2 separate regions of the Homo sapiens genome follow, and region 2 is linked to region 1. Evidence: fine-mapped expression QTL. Tissue or cell type: whole blood. Region 1 holds a variant in brackets; the other region holds the start of a gene. All regions are shown on one strand. Distances are between the middles of the regions.

Region 1 (8,108 bases):
GTTTATGACAGTGTTATTTATAATACAGAATGCCTGGAAATAACCTACACATCTAACAAAGGAGTAATGATTAAGTAAAGTAGCCAGTGTAGACACAGTAGACTGTTTTATAGCTATTAAAAATGATCATCATGAATATTATGCAGCAACATGGAAAATGCTGTGAAGCTAGTCACTAACATCAGATATTGTTCCAAGTACTTTATATGTCTTAACATGAAGACAGTTATTCATTTAATCCTCATTATTGCCATCCTCATTTTACAGATTGGGAAAATAAGGTATGGTTTGCTGAATTGTACAAGATCATATAACAGAGCCAGGATGTGAATCCAGGGAATCAAGCTCTAGGGCCTGTGTGCTTAAGCACTAACCTATGTTCCATTGAGTTGGCTGGAAGGAAGAGAACATTAAATAGTATACATTTATCACACACATAGAATCCAGAAGGAACTTACAAAATACTAATGGTTGCAGGGTGGGAGTATGAGTGAATTTTCTATATTCTCTGTTTCTAGTTTTCCAGGTGGCTTATTTTTAGCTAGCTCTAGGGTGGGCCTTCTCCTAGATTTATACTTGGCTCAGTGGCTGAGATAGGGGGTACAGCAAACAGTTGGTGGCCAATAAGTGCACATTCATCATTGTGGACATCAGAAGGCGGGACTCTATGCAGGATCATACTTCTCAGAAGATGGGGTGCAGGCACCCCTGTCTTCACACAGCTGTGGCCTAGAGGGAGTGCTGAACTGTTGGCAGTGTCACAGAGACAGGGCTAAGGATACTGGGACTTCCTAACATCCTTCCCATGGTCTGCAAAGTACACAGTGTGCACCCTCTGAGGGCCTACAAAGTGACAGGCACCATGCTAGGCACTGTCGAAGACAGATGAATCAAACATGATCCCTGCCATCAGAGAACTCCCAGTTTACTAAAACTTGGGCACAAAACAGTAGAACACAGTGGGTAGTCAGAGATCACTGGAAATTGTTACATTCATTTATTTTTTGAGCATCAATTATGAACCAGGCTCAGGTACTGAGGATACCATGGTAACAAAATAGACCAAGCTCATTTCTGTTTGTAAGGAAAGAAATTACTAAATGATTACAAGTGTGATGGCTTTTATAAAACAGTTGTTCATGACATACTTTTTGTTAGTTTATGTACAGAAAAGTATGTTATCAGTATCAACCTACCTCTGCAGTGCCTCCCCGTGTACTCCATGTACCAGTAGCTTTATTCATTGTTCCCTACACATATCATGCATGTTTATACTTAGGTACATTTCCCCTGCTATTCTACCTATCTAGAAGACCATTTTGCAGTTCATTATTCCTTAAGACTGCCCAAATGATCAGCAAGACATTCCTTGCTACCCCAGGCATCCTTAACCATGCCTCCTTTTCCCATATCTACTTTTTTATCTAACCTGAATGAAGCTGGACTATATCATGGTCAGGCTCAGCACTGTACTGCATTCAAAAGAAACACCAAGCTGACATCCAAGGAAGTATCAACAAGCAGTTTAAATAAGTATTTAAATCACTTAAAGAAAGGGCGAGGAGAATTGCATTGTATGACCCTCTTCTGAAATCCCCAAATCCCCTTTGTCCTTAATTTTCTCCAAAGTCCACTTATTATGTGGCACTCCCTATTTTCTCTGCCTCCCTCCAAGTAACTCCATACTTCTTACTCTCCGCCCATAAAACTCTCTTTCATTTCAGTTCTACGGAGTCAGAATTTGTATTTAAAAAGATCTCCAGATGATTTGTATGCCATTCCAGTTTGAGATGCACTGAACTAGATGGCCTCTCTAGGTGAGGTACTAGTTTCCTGCCATTGGCTAGCGGGAGTTTTCTGCTCATCGGAGTCTGTTTCAGGACAGCCTTTTGCCTCCCTGAAAGGAGGGGTTGCGCAAAGCATTTGCCACCAGATGGCGCCAAAGGTATTCCATCAGAGATGATCCCGCAGACACTACACTCTGGATGGGTCTTTTTCTTTTTGGGTGTCAACCGTCTTCTGGGGTTATTTGCAGGTTGAATAACTGGGCTTCCTCACAGAAATTCGGTGCTGGATGGGGATTGGAGATCATGGCATTTAACAGTTGTACAGATGAGGAAATTGACAGAGAAAGGTGGCTTGGCCCTGTCAGTCACCCAAAGCAAGGAAACCTGGGGGTTTCCTTCCCAGGTTTGCTTCCATCCCTTCATGATCTCTGCTGCTCAGACAGCCCTTCCTGACTATAGTTGAAGGCAGCAGGAGAGGTGTTATGGGGTTTCTCTGGGGAAGGACGGAGCAGGGTGGTAGCAGAGGCAGAGGGAAGTGAACTTAGGCAGTAGATGTCAACATTCAGCTGTACCTCTGGAAGGGGAGGGGAGCTCAGAACAATGGGAAATCTGATGGGAAAGAGTCACACATTACAATAAAAGGATGCAAGGTCAGCTGCCATTTATTGATCACTCTTACTGTGGCCTTGGCTCTGTGCTGTGTGCTTACCAGCACAGGATTTGCTCAATTAATCTTCCCAACAACTCCATGAAGTAGGGACTACTGTGCTCCTATTTTTTGCCCTTAAAAGTGGAGAGTGACGCTCAAGGGAAATGGAACTAATCAGGACAGAACTTCTGAATCCTTTCACCACCAAGTCTTCAGACCCTCTGCCTCCAATGTCCAAGTACTTGCTTTTCCCCCTGTTACCATCGATGCCTCCCTGCTTCTAGCTAAAGCACCACTTGTCTAATGGATCCCATCATTTTTGCCTACTTGTCCCATTATTCCCACTCCTATTTCCTGCATATTCAATTTTGCCCTCTCTACTGGATCATTCTCATCAGCATACAAATACACTGTAAAACTTCCATCTTTAAAAGGCCCTCCCTTGGTCCTATATGTCCCACCCTATTTCTTACTCTCCTTTATAGGCAAACTCTTCTAGAGAGCTGAATATATTAACTGCATCTAGTTCCTTCCTCCTTGGTCCCCATGAAACCCAGTCCAATCAAATGACTGACCCACCTCTTGTCAGGGTCCCCAAGTACCTCCAGGTGGCCAAATTCAGTAATCAGTTCTCAGCCTTCTTCTTTCTTGACCTCTCAGCAGCATTTGGTACTGTTGCCCATTTTTTTCCTTTGGGAAGCTATTTCTGCACTTGGTACAGGCCAGAACTCAAGAGGAAAAACAGTGGTTCTTAAGCTCCAAATTACAAAATTTGGCAAATAAAGTTATCTCCATCATTAACCTGCATTTTTGGGGTGCTCTTGGGCTATGCACTAGGGGTTTAAAACTGGAAAGGAAGCTACTTAGCTGTTTCGAGGTAACCACTCTGAGAAGCCCATGGGTCCAGGGATGTGCTGGAACATGACTTGTGCCCATAAATGCCATGGGCAGCTGAAAGTGTGGCAGGTTGTTCCTATTCATGGTAAAAGAAAAAGAAGTTTTTTTTTCCAGAGGGAGATTTCCATAATTACATTTCCTGCAAACTGAGTACTTGAGGTTGTAGCTTCAGGAAATAGCACAAAAGGACATGCTGAAAATGTAGTTTCTGCTTTTAATAGTCAGATTTGACAAAGTTAAAGGAGTTGCCATGCTGAACAATAGATTATTGGAGGAAAGAATTTACTGCTTTATCAGGTAAGGGAAAACTTCTGACCCAGGCAGCAAGAAGGACAGAAAGAGTTAGGCTCTGTCAGGGTCTGGCCACGGTGGCTTTGGAGGCCTGGATCCCTATTGGGACAGAACAACCTCTGCTATGAGGCCACACCTGCTTCCACGATCCATAAGAATTACCTTTCTACAGTAGATACTGCCATTCATTTATTCATTAGTATGTGCTGAGTGTTTGTTCTGGGCCTTCTCTGGGCTAGGCCTTGAATAAATAAAGACAAATAAAAGTCTTGTTCTCAAATAAAACTCTCAAGGAGTTGCTAGCATAAGTGTTCCAAAAATTCAGATTCCCCTTTATTGGACACCAAGCAAAGGCTTTCTACATTACTTCAGTGCAATTTTGTGTCATAAGGGAATTTTCTGGAGCTCCTGGACTCTCTAGAGGGCACTTCTCTGGCCAATGGAGAAGATAGGGTTAGGCCTGTTTTGCCACAATTTGGAAAGAACCAGAAGGAATGATGATCATCTTCTTGGCTTCTCTGGAGGTTCGGCTGTTGCAACAGCTAAAAGGGGAGATCTCGGAGGAGCCAGATACATGAGATCCACATGAACTTCAGGACTAGGAACAGCCCTGGAAGTGAAGAACAGCCTCAGAATACAGGACTTAGTGAAAAGGAAGGCTTTGGGAACAGAGGAGAGAAAAGGTTAAAGAGACCAGGGGAAGTTTCA[T/C]GGCAGGGGGAGAGATCAAGGAAAGGCCTAGAACTGCTACTCAGTGTGTGTAGTGGTGGTGGTGGGTGAGAGAGAGGGCAGTTGACCCCCGACAGCTGGAAATAATCCCTGGCATCTTGTAAACAAGACAAACGAGCTGCACGGTCTTCAGAGATGAGCCAGCCATTCCTGCCTGTCTGCCTCTTCCCTATTGTGGCATCTGAAGCCTGTGCAAAGTCCCCCACACCTTCCCTCTCCAACAAGGTCATTATCTTCCAGGGATGTATTTTGCATTTCTTGGCTGAGAACCCTACCCCTGGCTCACTTTGAAGCCTTCTGTAAAGTGGGTGACCACCGTCCAGTGTCACTCCCAGATCCTGGGGAAGAGTGGGATCATTTAGAGTCTGTGGCTTGGCCCTGGATGCATTATCCTGGGGGAAGTGAAATGAGCCTTTATGGACAAACAGAAAGTAGTGAAGAACAGGAAGAGAATTCTAGGCAGAGGGACCAGCACATTCAAAATCATGGAGTTGGCAGAAAACTCACAGAAGAGTGACTAATACAATGGGCTGGAATAATAGGGAATATGTGGGAAAGGGGAGAAAAGTGAGATGGGGCCCTGCTTCTCTTCTCCCCAGAGTTCCCCAGTCCTGTGCTCACATGTGGCCCTCTCCTCACCTCCATCAAAATCTCTGCCTTAAGTCTCCTCTTTCCTTCTTCCCTCCCGTATCTGTGTGTCACGAGCCTATTAGGCATCAGAGATTATAGTAATAGGTACCATGAACTGAGTACTGCTACATGCCTGTCCCTACCTATACATCACTTCAATCCTTACAACAATTCAGTGCCATAAACGGGTGTTGGAAATACTTAGCAAGGAATTGGCATAGGCTGCAACCAACCATAACAGATGCTGGCCTTATAAAAAAACCCTGACCATTCTGGTGGTACTAGCTGATGAGCAGTTGTGGCTGTTAAAACTGTTAAGTCCATTTTACAGATAAGGAAAGGAAGGTACCGAGAATTTCAGCCACTTGTCCAAAGCCACAAAGCAGGAAAATGGGGATTCAGACCTAGGCTTGTCTTGGTGAAATGTCTGATTGTTAAGCATTGGACTCACAGGGGGTGCTAATAGCCTGACATAACACACAGGAGCCTTTATGGGCGTCTGGCCTGGAGATTTAGCAGGATTGGTGGACAATGCAGGTCCAGGGAAGGCTGGCCAGGTGGAGGAAGCTGCAGAGCTGATGAGCCAGTGGGGCTTTCCTGGCTCCAGCCATGCTGTGTGGTCAGCTTGCAGGTGGAGGCCAGGGACCCACGGAAACTGGGTCAGCAGCACCCTGGACCTGGCCCCTTGTGTGGCTCTCCTTCCTTCCCCTGTCCCCAGTGTGACCATTCCCACTGCCTTTCCCCTTCTAGGCCTTTCTTTCCTCCCTAAGAGCAGAGATGCTTCTCTGGTCCCAGCTGAAACAACAAAAGTCACCTGAGCCTCTGCCTTTTCCAAAATTCCTGAGAGGCTGCCAGCAATGAGTCAGTGCATTGGCAGCTCTGATCACCAAGGACCAGCCTGGGCCTGGGCCAAGGCTTTATGTGGGTCTGAGCTGGGGTGGGAGGCAGAGATGATGAGAAGCCCTGGGGAGCTCTCTTCCCTTCAAGTGCTCGGGCTTCAGAGGCCCAGCCCCTTGGGGTCAGTGATTCTGAGCACATGGTACAGTGGGACTGGTTGGGAGACAGTCAAATAATGTGCCCTAGGCTCCTGCTCTGCACCAGGCATGGCCCTGCCCTCTGGGAGATCAGTAGAGTGGGGCTCCCGAGGATTGAATTCTATCTATCCACTGAGGATGTGAGGCTAGGCTGGTGTTCAGAGTAGGTAGCATGACCCTAGTCTCATTTTCATGTGGGTTGCTCGATTCCAGCCCCCTCCATGTGTGGTTCCCAAGAAGATTCTGAGAATCTGTCTCCAGCTCCCACGTGTGGTGTGATTTGGTTTCTGTTTACAACTATGATTCTGCATCGCTTCCTCCTCCTTCCCACACTCCCTCTCACCCCTTCACTCCCAACCCTCTGTGGTTCTGTGCATGGAGATGCTCCTCTCCCATTATGAGCATGGCTTGTAGTCTTAAGTGGCATTGCTCCTTACTTTGTATTTGGAGATAAAGGGGGACCATTGCAGCATGGGCTGTATCTGCCATGTTGGCTCATTAGTCCTGGAATTCCTTACCAGTCTTCTCATTGTCTGCTTAACAATGAGAACACACATCACAGGCTTCTGGCCTGGACCCATCCCTAACCAGCTTGTGACTGTGGGCCTCATCTTCAGGTCTGCATTCTGTAGGAGTTAGAGGAAGGAATGGGAACGATGGGGAGGGCAGGATGACAGCAGCAGGATGCCAGGGAGCAGTGACACCCACACTGTTTCAGCAGGGTCTGGAATTTCATCCTTAACGAGAAGATACCCTCCACCACTTCACACGTGCAGGAGCAACAGGCAGCCTGATGCCATGGAGAGAGTGGAGAATTCCAAATCAGACATAATGGGGTTCCAGTTCCAGCTTTGTGTCTTTTGTCTGGCTGTGTGGCCGTGAGCAAGCTTTAACCCCCTGGGCTTCAGTTTCCTCATTAGTGACGTGGGACAGCTGTGTTTGTCCCCCAGTGAGGGAGGGGGGGATGTTGCCAGGCACTTGTAAGATAGTGAGGATGAAAAGCACTTTCAACCTTAAGTTCTGTGTGCATGCAAAATGTTATTTGGTACAGTTTGGGTCCCCTGGAAGAAGATTCTGAGTTATATTGGAGTGTTCAGGATGTTTTTAGGAAGTGCCCTTGTGGGAAGGAAGGGAAGGAAGCAGAATGAGTTGAGAGGGAAGTTGAGCTGTGATGCAGGCCCCAAAGCCTCAGCCAGCTCCATGGGGAGCTTGAGTTGTCCTGCACTGGGCTAAAATAGTTAAGCCTTCATATTCCCTCATCACTGGGTGAGGCCAGGCCCTGGTGGGATGGCGAGGTGGCTCTCTCTCTCTGAGGCTCTGCATGATGTGCTGACAGCCTTGCTGTCAGCTGGGCAACAAGTCTTTCCTTGAAGGAGGATCTGGGTGGCGCATGCTCCTGCCCACCTCTTTATGGTTGTTAATGATATGGTCACACCTAAACATCAGGCTGAGCTGATCAAAGGCTGGTTCTTACAGGGCTCCTGCCATTCCAGCACTATTTGCCAGCTGTCCTCATGAGTTCTAGATTGATGGCTTTAGTCTTGAATTTCTGAGAAAAGAATGGGAAGTCCTTCTTCTCTTTGCTCTGGGACCCAGAAAACCATCCCACTTGGTTTTGCCTGGGAGCAAAATTGGCTATAGAGGCAAGACACAAAAACCAATGAATGTAAACAAATGGATTGATTTAATTAAAAACAAACAGCTCCATGTGTCTGCATGTGGGGTACACATGTGAATATGTATGAGCACATGTAGAGGTGCATTTATATGTGAGCACAGTCAATCCTTGAACAACATGGGGTTGAGCTGTGTGAGTCCACTTATATGCAGATTTTTTCAATACATATATTTTTTAAAATTTTGGAGGTTTGTAACAATTTGCGAACACTCACAGATGAACTGTGTAGCCTAGAAATATCAAAAAAATTAAGAAGTTAGGTATGTCATGCATACATAAAATAGGGATAGATACTAGTCTATTTATGTGTTAATCCACTACTGATGTTATTAGTAAGGCTTCTGGTCAACAGTAGGCTATTAGTAGCTAAGTTTCTGGAGAGGCAAAAGTTATGCAGATTTTTGACTGTGTGGGGC
Region 2 (8,108 bases), 210 kb after region 1:
GAAAATGAAAATGTTGGATGAGAACAATTATTTTCAAAAACTTTTTGTTACTACAATCCACAGTAAAAATAGTCATTTTACATGCTGACCTGATAAAATATCCATCTTTATTAACTTCAATGCATTTGCTATTTTTCTATTTCATTCTAATACATTTCTTTAAAAAAATTGCTGGTAGATCCACTAAGCTAATTTCATGTCTCATAGTTTGTAACTCATAGTCTGAACAATTCCAGACTAGATCATCTCTGAGGGGCCTTCCTACCCCAATTATGGAAATCATCCTCATTATCACCTAATATTTACCACATGGGGGCTGTCTCCTATGATCCTCAAAGCAGTAGTGTAACACGGGCAGAGGAGCTTATGAGATTCATCACAGATCACATGGCCAGAGCATGATGGAGCTGGTACCAGAACCCAGTGAATGCACAATAGCAGCAATGCTTGCCCTGGTCGGCACCTCTTCTCTCAGATAATTCCACCTCCTGACCACCCTCTGTCATACAGCTGCGACTTAAATGCCACTCCTAATCTGTCGAAATGAGCTGCAAATCTAGTGAACACATTCCAAGAATTTAATGTTAAGCTAGATCTTTCAGGCACTACCCCATGCCAAACACAGGTGGACGAATCTCATTACCTGGCCTGGAAGGGCTCTCCTTCTAACAGAAAAAAATCCACCCACAGACATGAACACTAAGCACAGCATTGAAGACTCTTTCAAAACTGCACTTCCATTTTGCTTCCTCAGTAATAACCTCATTGTTCTATTTAACCTCAGCACTATCTTCCCACCTGGCTGATGCAAAGTACCAAGGCTCAAGCCTTCCATGGAGACTCTCTGAGCACTGGAGGACAACAGAACAGCCAGAGGGTGGCACTCCAGTGGGAAGAGAAGGGCACTCACAGTAACTCCCAGGAAGCACTCCCTCTGTTGCTCCCCTTCTGTCCCCAAGGGTGAGTGAATAGGGGATGCCAACAGGCTGTCAGCCTCCTTCTAGATACCCTTCTTATCCCAGACAAGCATCAGCTGACTTCAGGAATATATAAAAGATGTTGTTTAACATCATGGAAAGGTCAGGTCCTTAGATTTATGGATAACACCTGTATTAGTCTGGTTCTTACACGGCTGTGAAGAAATACCCAAGACTGGGTAATTGATAAGGAAAAGAGGTTTGATTGACTCACAGTTCCACATGGCTGGAAAGGTCTCAAGAAACTTACAATCATGGCGAAGGCACCTCCTCAGAGGGTGGCAGGAGAGAGAATGAGCGCTAGCAGGGGAAATGTGTCAGGCACTTATAAAACCATCAGGTCTCGTGAGAACTCATTCATTATCACGAGAACAGCATGCAGGGGAACCACCCCCGTGATTCAATTACCTCCCACAGGGTTCCTTCCACAACACGTGGGGATTATGGGGATTATAATTCAAGATGAGATTTGTATGGGGACACAGCCAAACCATATCAACAACTTATTTATAGTACTTGGGAGAAAAAAATTTACATCAGAGGCAAACGACAGGGGCAAGAATGATTTCAGGGGACCAAAACCTAGGTTTTAAAAAAAGACTTAAAGATCTTCCTTCATTTTCTTAACTACTTAACAAAGCAATAAATGCTGGTTGGTAACATGCCAGTAATTCTAAGGCAATTATTTTCACAATGATTGGAGCCTGTAGTGGGAATTTATTGTTTTGCTTTCTACATCCATTCCTCCTCCTTCTGATGACACTATCCATATTTACTGTGAGGATCTATATTCCCTTTATTCCAAGCCAGATGGTGTGGGTGGCCCTACCTTAAACCCCATTTTAACTCCAGGGGTGGGCTCTGACCGGCTTTAATTACTGGTGATTGGTTTTGGTTTGGGAATGGGAAGAGAGAATCTAATCAGAGTCAATAAGGCAGAAGGATTCGCTTTCTGAGGCGTCAGAGAAAGGGTATTTTCTCTTCCCCAAGAGCTACCAGAATAAAAGTATCTTTCTATTCCTGGATGATGTGGTGTGAGAACAGGAGATGGAGGACTGTGGCAATAACGAAGTGAGAGACTTCACTGAATAGAGCTTGAGGATGAAACTGACCTTGCAGAGAGGCAGAGTAGAGAGCCAGAGAGAATCTGCATCTTGAGCAATGCCATCTGGGCTTGTGGTTCAAGCCGTGCCTGCAACCCTTCCTCTAGATTCTTTAGATAAAGGAGCCTTTGTGTGCTTAAGCCAGTTTGTATTTTCTAACGCTTACTAGCAAAGTAATTCAAGGTGATAACAAACACCTTGAACACTTTGGAAAGTGGTAGCGTCCAAACAATTTAAGGTTTCTTTTGGAAAGAGCAGGACTCCAATGTGATAGAGGTTGATTTTGATTTTTTTTTCCTTAGCCGCTTCTATTAGTTCTGTAGGAAACAGTCACAATACTTCACATTATATAGTTGTTCCTACTTCTCAAAAACATCTTTTCCATACAGACTGCCTCACCTGAATTTCACAATCCAGAGTCAGAGCAATTATGAAAAAAAAATTTATTTTGCAGTAATTGTTATTCAGCACTTTATACAGTTTAAAATATGATTTCAAGTTCAGTGATTCATTTTATTGTCACAATAACCAAATGAGATAGAAATGGTGGGTCTATCATAATATCTATTTTAGGCTGGAGAAAGTTGGGCCTCAGATAAGTTAAATGAGATATGTGAGTTAATTTGAGGAGGTAGGGGGAGACAGGACTAAATCTGTCCTTGCTTCTATTTCTCTCACCCAATCCTCTGAACCAAAGATACTAAACTCTATTCCCAAAAACAAATACAAAAGAGCTAGCGGTGGGTTGAACTCGACCAAAGCATTGGAGATCTGGATTCCAGTGGCAGAGCCAGAACTAACTAGCTGGTGACCTTGGGCAAGTTTCCTTTGTCTTGTTTTTTGTAAAAGAAGAGGTTTAAACTAGGATCTCTAATGCTCCTGCAAGCTCGAAAATTTCTATAAGTCTAGACTTTTCCATCCTTGCTCTCAAATTAATCTTTTTCTCAGAATAATAATCATAACCTTATTTATTCTCCCACTGGGTACCAGGCACTGTTCTAACGTACCCCCATTTTCTACCCGCATTTTCTCTTTAGATCTCACGACATTCCTAAGACAATTATATCTCTTTTACAGATAAGGAAACCTAGGCTCATGTAGGTTAAATGAACTGCCCAAGACCAATAAAATTAGTAAGCATCAAGGGGAGAGCTGACCGCAGGTCAGACTGACCGCGAGGATCTAAACCTGGTCTGTGTTGTTACTGCAGAAGAAATTAGGCTCCCTGCATTACTGGTCGCCTCTCTCCACGCATAAAAGGGAGAGGAGGGACAAGAAAGCCAAACCAAGTCACAACAAGCCCCTGCAAGGCAAAAACAGAAAAACCGCTGGAAGGGCGCCCGGGAGGATCCTTTCTGGGTCCAGGGGGCGGGGCGCAATTTTCCGGCAGCCACGGGATCGCAACGCGGGCCGTCCTGCCCTCTGGCCCATTACCTTGTTGAGATGAGGGTTCCTGGTGACATCGTATCCGCGCTTCTTCAGGGGCACAGGGCGCGCCGGGCCAGGCTTGGAGTGGCAGCCTTGGGCGGGCGCGGTGGGTGTCCAGCGCGGGAGGGCGCCGCAGGCCCGGCCCGGCCAGGGAGCCAGCCGCGTGCCTGTCCCCAGCGCGGCACCCATGGTCCTTGGCAGACCTGGCACGGGAGAGAAAGCAAGGTCAGGGCCTCCTTCCAGCCAGCCAGGACCCACGCGCGCTGCGGGGCACCGGGCCTGATCCGGGGACGCGCCCTCTGGGAGAGGGCAGGTGCTCCCAAAGGGTTAAATGTTCCAGCCCCCGCCACTCCTCGGCTGCCACCTGCTCGGCTCCGCGCGGGGCGCCAGGCCTAGCCAAGAGCCAGGCAAAGCGAAACCAAGCCCTGGAAGCAGATCCGGTGCGGGTGACAGCCGGCGCCACCCCTGCCCCCATCCCTGTGAAAAAGAGGCGACTGCGCGGCGAGGGGTCCCCGTACCCCTAATCCCGCGTGGTGGCTTGCCTCGGTCCTCTCCTTCCCTGGCCCACCTGCGCTGCTCGGGGAGCTGAGGTCTACGCGGTCCCGCTGCGGAGCAGGCGGGGTGAGGAGCTGCGGTCTGTGAGTCCTCTCCCGCCAATGGGTGGACCGCGCTGGCGGCCGCGAGCTCGCGGAGCTGGTGAGTTCCTCAAAGAGCGGTCCCACAACCTTTGTTCTCAGTGCCTGGCTTCCCCTGAGGACGCGCGTGGGGCGCCTCAGCACTGCGTGCACGTGGTTTTCCCCAGTGACAAGAAGCAGCTCAGAATGCCCGCCTGAGACTCTCCATCTTGGCAAGACTAAATGCACAGAGGGGGATTTGCGTTTGGGGGTCAGCATATCCTCGCACTCTCCCAACATTCGGGGAAGGGCGTGCCTTCAGGATTTGGAGTAGAAATCCTCAGGCATTCGGTGCTCAGTGTTGCCTTGTGCTGTCCAATATAATAGCCATTCGCCACGTGTGGCTATATAAACGTAAATAAATTAGTCTATATAGAATAAAATTTAACATCCAGTTCTGCAGTCACGCTAGCCACATTTCCAGTTCAAGAGCCACTTGTATGCAGATACAGAACATTTCTGTTTTTGCGGATACTTCTATTAAGCATCATTGACATAGGAGCCACAGTTACTAAGAGGACTTCTGAGGACCCCATGGAGTTTGCCATGGGTTATTGGGGCCAGACAGGGATCTTGGGGTCCATCTAGCCCCAAACTTAATTTTATACTTTCTCCACACAGTAGTCAGGAGATTCCTTTTAAAGCAAACACTTTGTTGTGTGTGGAATAAAATCCAAACTTTCAGGGCCTACAAGATTTCCCATAAACTGGCTCTTGCCAGCCTCTTCAGACTTATCCTACTCTACTCTTTCCTTCTCACTGATCTCTGGCCATACTTGATCCTTCCTGTGTCTTCACCCCACTTGGTTCCCTCCCACTGCAGGGCCTTTGCACTTGCTATTGCCTCTCCTTGGAAGGCTCATACTCCAGCCTTGCAAACCACTACTTCATTCCCACCTCTCAGTTCTCCACTAAGTTGTCAACTCGAAGGCCTTTCCTCTATCCCATTCAATGTCAGCCTGCACTAGGAACTATAGAGTGAAGGGGTTTTTCTCTTTAGAGAACTTAACACAGTCAGTAGCGCGCTTGTTTTTCTGATTGTTTACTGACTATCTCCTGTCTAGAATGTAAGCTTCATGAAGAGAGGCTCTTTGCCTGTGAACCTGTGTGTCCTCACTGCCTAGCTCACTGCCTGGTATGTAGTTGCACAATAAATAGTTGTTAGGTGAAGGGAAGTGGCAGCCACTTTCATAAGGATCGTGAACCCTTAGACTTACTGACAGACAGTTGGCACGGTCCTCTGCTGACACCCCTTCAAAGCTCCCGGTGCCAGCATTAGCCCCGTTGTAAGTACCAAGCAGACATCATGGCCCATAATGTGCTAAGGGGTGCTCCTGCCTGAGTTCAGGATTCCCTCATCCCTTCAGGAATAATCGTCTCCTCCTGCAGTCTCTCTCCTCCCTGTGTAATATCTAATTTTCAACTTGAATGATCTACGTAAAATAGTTATTTCCAAAACAGAATTACAATTACCTGGTAGGAAATAAGGATGGGGCAAAAATACAGCTTTCCAGGCCCCATCCATGAAGATTCTCATCCAGTAGGGTTTACATCCCTGAAGTCAGGTTTACTCTTGGACTGCATATTTACATAAGCTTATAAATGATCTTTTTTTCTGCCTTAAACCAGTTTGTGTCAGATGTGTGATTGTGTGCAACCAATAGTATTAACTAAATCCTTTCAACACTATTTTTATATTGGCACTTCTTCCCACCAGTCAACATCTTTGGGGGGCAGAGATCATGTGTGTTTCCATCTTTGGTATCTAGTGCATGCAAATATTTGGAAATTGATTGTTGAACCAGTTTGCCCTTGCTGAATACAATGACCTTTCCCTCCCCTGGAGGATATCTAATAGGTAACTTTAGTCATTTGAAACCAGGATGTAAACAACAAAGGTTTCCAAACAAGCGAACATAATTTTTATAGCATCAATTCACTAAAGCTTGTACAGTTTACATATAAAAGTCTCTTACATGTCCTCACCTGTGGCCTATATTCTCTTAACCCAGGCATAATTCTACAATGTTGTTTTGTGTGTGTGTTTGTTCTTTGGTGACAGGAAAGAAAAGGTTAAAGGCAGGTCCACCAGGAGCAGTGACAGAAGGCAGTAGCAAGAGGAGGTGGTGGCTTCTCAGTTCCATACAGTTGTCCAGGGACCCAGGTTTTCTCTTTTGCTGCCAGGCTCTTCTGTAGCTGTTGCCCGCCTCTACACAGCGCTAACACCATGTTAGCATCCCAGCCGTGGAAAGCGGGAACAAGGAAACAGAGGGAAAGCAAATCGATTTGTTTTTTTAATTGGGACAGGGTCTCACTGTGTTGTTTAGGCTGTTCTTGAACTCCTGGGCTCAAGCAATCCTCCTGCCTCGGCCTCCCAAAGTGCTGGGATTACAGGCGTGAACCTCTATGCCCAGCCAAAGCAAATCTGTTCTGTGGAAGTGACATGAAAGTTGTATATATTACTTCTACTCACATTCCATTGGTAAAAACTAAGTCACACATTCATATCAAGCTACAGGGAGGGCTGGAAAATATTGTTTGTAGTAGGAAAGGCATGTATGTGCTCTACTGAAGTTCAGTGGGGAGTCTATTACTAAAAGGAAGAAGGGGAGAATGGTTCCTAGGGACCACTAACTAGAAGTCTAAATATAATACTCATTTTCTGTTGAAGTGCTTAGCCCGTAGTGGGTGATCAGAAACTGTGAGCTGTTTTTATTGGCACGTGTGGTTTCCATTTCTGCTTTTGTGGCAACTTCCTTACTTTTAGAGCTGAATATAGGATTTCAGAGACCAGGTTCAGAACCATGGAAACATTACAGATCTTCTTCCAACTCCATACAACTCTGACTTCCTTAGCCAGCCAGGAAGTTGGCTTGTGATCTGGTGATCTGGTCCAGCACTATATAGAACTAATGGGTCTCCATAATTTGTCTTGGCCCCTCTCCTTTCATATCCCATTTACTGACTTCTGCCATCATTGTAATGATGCTTCTTGGGATGGCAGAGAAGGAATCTCATTCCATCTCCTCCAGCCAACAGTTCCATATTCCAGGTATAGTTAATACTTTTGCTTTTCCATTTTGATTACAGAGATTTAAATATCTACCTGTTTCCCTACTAGATTGTGAATTCCTTGATGACTACAACCACCATTTATAATTCTTTGCATCTCTATACCTGGGAAAGTGCCTGGCACTTAGAATTAACTCAGTTTCTTGAATTAAATATAATTGTGGTTCAAATTTGTGCATAACCTTCCAAGGAGTGGAATTAATTGAAACTAAATTTGGTACATTGTTAAAAGGGCACAAAATGGCTTCAAGTCAGATTTTTAACTCAGTCAGCTATCTTAAAACAAGATCTCTTATCTTCTGAAAGCAGATGTTAATGACCTTACACATGGATTTTAAAAAGGAGGTGAATATAAAATTCATTATTTTTCAGTTAATCCCATTGCTTCACAAACTTATTCGTAATATTCTGCACAACATTTAATGTTCATGATTGCCCCAAAGAACTCTTTAAATTCATATTGCTGCTAGTAATATTTGTAAGCACTTCAACTCTATCATTATTATTATTATTTGCAGCAAAGGAGAATTATGGGGATCATTTATTTCTTCCTGGTCTGCATACTCATCACTCTGCTTATGTGCCCTGAACTCTGGGCCTTTGCTCAGCAGTTTCCTCTGCTTCCAGCATCTGCCAGTTGAAGCCCTGTCTGTCCTTTACAATTCTACTCAAACACTACCTCCTCCAATGAGCCTTCCGAGAGTGCCAACCAGCAGCTTACCCTCCCTCCCTGATGCCCACAAACTCTGCTATTTTTATCTCTCCTATTCACTTTTATTGCACTTTTGAAAATCTCTCCTATTGTGCAAAGAGGCTCATAAAAGTGAACACCTTTAAATCCAGATAGTCTGGAC

The links. PIP is the estimated chance that this variant, and not a neighbour inherited with it, causes the effect.
Region 2: it holds the start of ME3, and the variant in region 1 is fine-mapped to the expression of ME3 in whole blood (TOPMed, PIP above 0.99). The same link has a PIP of 0.9 or more in tibial artery.

The regions. Positions count from the first base shown.
Region 1 is chr11:86,454,351-86,462,458 of GRCh38, forward strand. All of the region lies in intron 8 of ME3 (malic enzyme 3), which reads right to left. Among named protein-coding and RNA genes, the nearest start is that of CCDC81, 84 kb to the left of the region's middle. RefSeq lists an enhancer at 5,623-6,151. The variant T/C (reference allele first, on the strand shown) is at 4,333.
Region 2 is chr11:86,668,248-86,676,355 of GRCh38, forward strand. ME3 (malic enzyme 3) reads right to left here and starts at 4,369. Exons shown (of 15, transcript NM_001161586.3): 1 at 4,077-4,369; 2 at 3,515-3,711. The coding sequence starts at 3,697. RefSeq lists a silencer at 6,740-7,034.